2 separate regions of the Homo sapiens genome follow, and region 1 is linked to region 2. Evidence: fine-mapped expression QTL. A gene starts in region 2. The other region holds a variant in brackets. All regions are shown on one strand. Distances are from middle to middle. Region 1 overlaps MXRA7 (matrix remodeling associated 7). Region 2 holds the start of JMJD6 (jumonji domain containing 6, arginine demethylase and lysine hydroxylase).

Evidence for each region. PIP is the estimated chance that this variant, and not a neighbour inherited with it, causes the effect.
Region 1: its variant is fine-mapped to the expression of JMJD6 in whole blood (TOPMed, PIP above 0.99).

What each region holds. Positions count from the first base shown.
Region 1 is chr17:76,685,468-76,688,363 of GRCh38, forward strand. MXRA7 (matrix remodeling associated 7) reads right to left here. Exons shown (of 4, transcript NM_198530.4): 2 at 2,646-2,709. Among named protein-coding and RNA genes, the nearest start is that of MXRA7, 24 kb to the right of the region's middle. RefSeq lists an enhancer at 1,129-1,924. The variant T/C (reference allele first, on the strand shown) is at 1,554.
Region 2 is chr17:76,725,424-76,728,254 of GRCh38, forward strand. It overlaps JMJD6 (jumonji domain containing 6, arginine demethylase and lysine hydroxylase), which reads right to left and starts at 1,183. Exons shown (of 6, transcript NM_015167.3): 1 at 924-1,183; 2 at 44-432. The coding sequence starts at 1,052. METTL23 (methyltransferase 23, arginine) reads left to right here and starts at 1,416. Exons shown (of 5, transcript NM_001080510.5): 1 at 1,416-1,755. RefSeq lists enhancers at 1,056-1,685, 2,316-2,831 and silencers at 1,107-1,236, 1,347-1,796.

The DNA.
Region 1 (2,896 bases), 40 kb before region 2:
GCTACTGAGCTCAGAGGCGACAACTCCGGCAAGCAGAGCACAGCTCATCTTGGGACACACACCACGCCTGCCTGGGCTTGGGGAGGCTTGTGTCATCCCCCCACCCCCTGTGGCTATTGGAAATCTGAAAACACGCATCCAGGCAGCCCACAGTGGCCAGGCCAGGGATGCGGGATTTGCTGCAGCAGGTTTGACGTGTGTACCGCTGAAGAGGCAGAGCCCGATTTGCCAGTCCCCGAGGGGAGACCCCCCATTGCTGCCTGCAAAAAACGGACAGATCTCGAGGCCTGAAGAGGGCACATGGATGGGTAGGTGGTGGGCACAGAGGAAGCCAGGACCTGTGGCCTGGAGTGGACACAGGCTCCGGGCACATGAGCCACGGTGAGGAGAGAAAAGCTGAGCTTCCAGAGGGAAAAGCCCCATGGGGGAGCAACCTCTTGGTTCCTGAATCCAGCAGGTGTCGGGCAGAGCTGGCTGGCCTCTTATCGACCTCCACTAACTAAAGGACCCAGTGAGGGAGGCATAGAGAGATCCTCAGCTGCTATTCTGGAAGTGCTGCCCTCTCTGTCCCTCCATATCCTGTCCAGCAGCCCGAAAAGCCAGGCCCCTCCCCTCTAGCTTGCAGCCTTCATGCTACCGGATAGGCTGATGTGGACCGATGGGGAGGCGGGGGGGCTCTCAGGGTGAAAGGAAGAAGGTTCTAGATGCGAATTCAGAACCCAAACATCTGGTTGGGTGTGGTGGCTCATGCCTGTAATCCCAGCACCTTGGGAGGCCAAGGCAGGTGGATCACTTGAGGCCAGGAGTTCGAGACCAACCTGGCCAATGTGGCAAAACCCCGTCTCTACTAAAAATACAAAAAATTAGCCGGGCGTGGTGGCAGGCGCCTGTAATCCCAGCTACTCAGGAGGCTGAGGCAGGAGAATCGCTTGAACCCGGGAGGCAGAGGTTGCAGTGAGCCGAGATCGCGCCACTGTACTCCAGCCTGGGCAATAGAGTAAGATTCCAGTATCCCCCTACCCCCCAAAAAAAGAAAACATACAAAATCCTGCCTTGGTCCCAGTCTTAGGTTTCAATTTATGGGGCAAGTCTGATTAGTTTTGTTTTCTGAGCCAGACAGAACAAACGACTTGAAAAGGATTTCGCTCAGTCACATGCAGTGCACCAGGCAGCGCATCCAGTTTTGCTAGACCAGAATTCAACGTGACAGCCTCCGAGGGACGGGGGAGGTTTCTTCCTCCAGTCTCCTGTGAATTCACCTAGTCGCTCAGGGAAGTCATTTTAGCGACACTAATAATTAACCTCTGAGGCTGCCTCGTACTGCAGAGGGGCTGGAGGTGCTCACACATTCTTCCAACAGCTGGAGCCATAAACCTTTCCTTTCCCTGCCTTGCTAGAGATGGCAGGAGGCTAAGATGGCAGGAGGCGCTGGGGGTGGGGGATGTTCAGGAGCAGCGGTGCAGATAAGGGGGGAGGCTGGTGACAGTGCTGGGGGACTGTGCCCTCTGGCAGCTATGCCAGGGAGAGGGGTCTGCGAGCCTCTCTCCTTGTCC[T/C]TGCCAAAGGGCCTCCCTCCCGTGTCCCCAAGTCACTAACAGGATCCCTGCATCCCTTCAGCTGTCTCAGGCCACATGGCAGGGACAGATGCCAGGGCCATGGCTGCGGTGAGTCCCCAGTCCCCAAAAGCAGGGAGCAAGGGTCCTTCCTGGTAAGGGACTAATGTCCCCACCTGCAGCCCACCGCCTGCACCCAAGCTTCATTCTCCCCTCCTGCTTCAGGCTGTGCTGATGGAAACCAAGGCACTGCCTCAGGGGAAGCTCTGCACCCCAGCCCAGCCTGCCCGCAGGAGCTGGTTCCTACATTCCTGAAACCTTCTCTTTCCACTGCTCCTGCCAGCAGCCGACTTAACATCACAAAAGCAGACTTGCTTTTTTAAAATTATGAAATATTTCAAACATACAAAAATGCAGAAAGCACTAATCCTCCCTGTGCTTGCCACACAGAGCCAACAAACGCTGACATCTTGCATGTCTGCCTCCGCTTTCTTTTTTAGAGAAATAAGTGGATGGACCCAGCAGAAGCCACTCCATGTTTGGTTCCGCCTCTGTCTGTCCTGGCCGGGTCCGATCTGGCAGTGTCTCCCCTGTTCTCGGTCACTCCCTTTCTCCTCTCAGTCTCATGGCTGGGGCCTGTGGCCAGTCAGCCAGAGCTGCTTAGAAAGCAGGCGTGTGCCCTCCTGGGGCCTTCGTTCTGAAGAAGGCACGGGGGAGGCCGTGTGAGTGGTTTTCGTCTCAGTAAAATAGGTCAGAGATGTTTGGAGAGAATCGTGAAATGTACAGCGCGGTCACAAAAGGGGAGTTAGGAGGCAGCGCAGGACAGAGCCAGGCAGGGCGTGTAGTGTGTTCCCAAGAGGGGCCCCGGGATGGGAAAGCCAAGCCCCAAAGTGCAATGGGGGTGAGGGAGGGCTACAGGCAGGCCAGGGCAGGACATCCATGGCGCCAGACTCTACCTCTCATGCCCCACTCAGGCCACTGTCCCACCCCATCCCTCCCCTCGGCACTCGAACCCCAGCTCCTGTGATCCCCAGCAGGACACAGACCACCCCCGACACTGTCAGGCCCCCTCATGAGCGCAGAGGTCCCACTCACCGTCCTCCTCCTCAGGCCCTTCCGATGATGGCCCCTTCTCACCATCCAAGTCCTGCTCCTCTTCCTGCAAGACAAGGACAGGGTCAGTGCCCTTGGCACAGACTGGGTGATGGGAAGTGGTGGGGGGGCAGAAGGTAGGGGAGACAGAGGAGGCCCTCGAAGGTCCAGCCTGCCCACGCCCTGTGGCAGCGCCTGCCCTGTGGTCATGGTCAACCAGCAGGTGGGGGCTGTGTACAAACGATGGGCCAAAG
Region 2 (2,831 bases):
AAAAAGAAAAGGATTTTAACCACTTAGCTGCAGAATACTTTACCTGTAAGGGGGCCTGCGCTTCTCCCCAGCATACTGGAAAAGGTCATCAGTGAAAAACTTTGGCACCTTGTAGTCTTCCAAAAGTTTCCTTCTTTTAGGGTGTTCACCATAGCTGCTGTCAAAGATGTAAAGGGGACTATCATCTCGAGTGCTCTCCATGTACTCGATGTAGTATTTCATCTTCATCTTCACTGAGTAGCCATCGTTATCCTCACCACACTTGAACTTCTGGTTCCGATATTTCCTTTTTAGGCGCTCCAGAGTCCATTTCTCCTGCGCAGACCAGCCCTCTTGCGCATTCAACAAAACCACGGGCTTGTAAGGTCTTTCATACCGCTCCACAAATTCTTCCACAGACAGCTGTAAAGCATCTGCCCTTTCCACGTTATCCTGAGGGAATTAAAAAAGACCTGTCCAGTTAAAAAAAAAAAAAAAGTCCAGTGGCAGATAAGGGTGTCCCCAAGGCCAACTGGTAATGACAAACCGAAGGAAGTTGACTCTCGTCTGGCTCCTCCGGGGTGGGGGCAGGGCGCGTGCGTGAGGCCACGTCGTTCCTAGAGCCACCCCCCATGAGCCTTGACAGCCAGGTCCCCTAGGGGACCCGCCGCCCAAAGGAGTCAGGGACGACGGGCCTTCTAGTTGAGAGCGCCACAGGCGTGGGACTCCCGTCGTCCGCCAGAGCAGACGGGCGGCCACAGCACGGGAGGAAGCAGACCCGCCCCGGAATCCGCGCCTCGGGGACCCCAAACTCCGCGGGGTGCGGGTGAGCCTCTACGAGGTCCCGGGCGCTCGGGGCGAGGGCAGCCTCGGGCCCAGAGAAAGGTGCGTAGCGGCTGGAGGTGCCGATGCCCGGCCTGGCCACCCCCGCCCGACCCGCTCACCGCCACGGCCGCCGGGCTCAGCGAGAAGCTCTCGTAGTAGTTGTGCCGGGTCCAATCCAGCGAGTCCTTGAGCTCCGGCCGCGCACTCCGCTTGGCCTCGCGGATGCGCTTCTTGCTCTTGTGGTTCATTCTGCGGGGTCGCCAGCTGGTTCCGCTACGACCTCGGCGCAGCCCGCTTCCTGACACTAACGCACCCCTCCCCGGCCTGGGCGGCGGCGACGGCAGTACCCAAACGCCCTTCGCTCAGTCCCGGCGCCTTTAAAGTCGCCTTCCAGAAAATTCACTCCCCAGCCACCTCCCGAGCCTCGGGTTGGGCAAGCGGCCGCCGTCTTCCCCGCCCCGACGCCTCTCGCGGTTTTCCATTGGCTTTGGCTCCCCTGGGGTACTCCTTCACATACGGCGGGCCTCCGCCATGTTGGGAAGGTCACGTCGGCTGCGTCACCGCCCCGCCCCGCCCCGCCCCTCCCCTCCCGCGCTGCCGCTGTGCCCATCACTTCCGGTCGCGCCAGCCGCCCGTTGCCAGTTCTGCGCGTGTGAGTCTCTTTCGCCTTGCTCCGGGCTTTCTTCGCTCGCAGCGCGGCAGGGTTATCACCAGATCTGGGCTTTCCCCTTCTTGCCGTCAGGTGCTACGGCCACGTGGCCCGCGGCTTCCCGCTCGCGCAGTCTGGCAGCCCGGAGCCTTCCGCGGTCCCCCGCCCGCCCGGGGCCCAACGACGCCCTACTGGGCGAGCACGATTTCCGAGGACAGGGGGTCCGGGCCCAGCGCTTTCGATTCTCGGAGGAGCCGGGTCCGGGGGCCGACGGGGCTGTCCTGGAGGTCCACGTCCCGCAGGTGCGTGCAGCAGCACCCGCCAGGAGGCGCCTGAGGTCAGGAGCGGATGTCGGCTGACTTGGCTGGGTTCCTGAGGGACCGGGGGTGCGGACGCTCAGCTGCGCAGCTTCCTGCTTTAGGTTGACCCCCGGAGCAAAAACGTCGGATATGAAGCCCTTCGGTGCATTAAATGTCTCTCAGTAAGAATTTTGGAGACCCTGCCAAGAAGTGACCCTGGTCACTATGTTGGTCAGGCTGGTCTCGAACTGTAAGCTTAAGTGATCCTCCTGCCTCGGCCTCCCAAAGTGCTAGGATTACAGGCATGAGCCACTGCGCCGGGCCGGCTTTCTCCACATCGAATCTTTCCTGCCAGGAAAGTGACATTCTTGACTGACCTCTAATGCTTCTTTTGATCTTGTCCAAGGGTTTCTTGATTCATCCTTATCTCTCACTTTTGTGTGAGTTTTGGGATCAGGGTTTCCAGTTTTATTTGGTGCCCAAAGTGTTTCTTGGGTTGGACCTCGCTTCTTCCTCTAAGCTCACAGCTACAACAAAACTCTCAATAATAATTCTTTTTCTTTTCTTTTTTTTGAGACACTGTCTCGCTCTGGCGCCCAGGCTGGAGCGCAGTGGCGCGATCACAGCTCACTGCAACCTCCAACTCCCGGATTCAAGTGATCCTCCCGCCTGCCTAAGTGCTGGGATTGCAGGAGTGAGCCACCATGCCCTGCCTGTCTTCGGTTTTTCAAAGCACTTTCACTTTGCAGTATTTCATTTGGTTTTAACACCAGCCTGTGAGGCATGTCCCATGCTAAAGAAACAGCTTTAGAGAAGTTAAATGGGAGGCGGAGGCGGGAGGATCGCTTGGGACCAGGAGTTCCAGACCAGCCTGGGCAATATAGTGATACTACGTCTCTACAAAAAGTAGAAAAATTAGGCATCGTGGCTTGTGCCTGTAGCCCCAGCTACTCCGGAGGGTGAGGTGGGAGGATTGCTTGAGCCCGAGAGGTCGAGGCTGCTGTGAGCTATGATCAGGCCACTGCACTCAGGCATGAGCAACAGAGCAAGACATTGTCAAGAAGAAAAAAAAAAAAAAA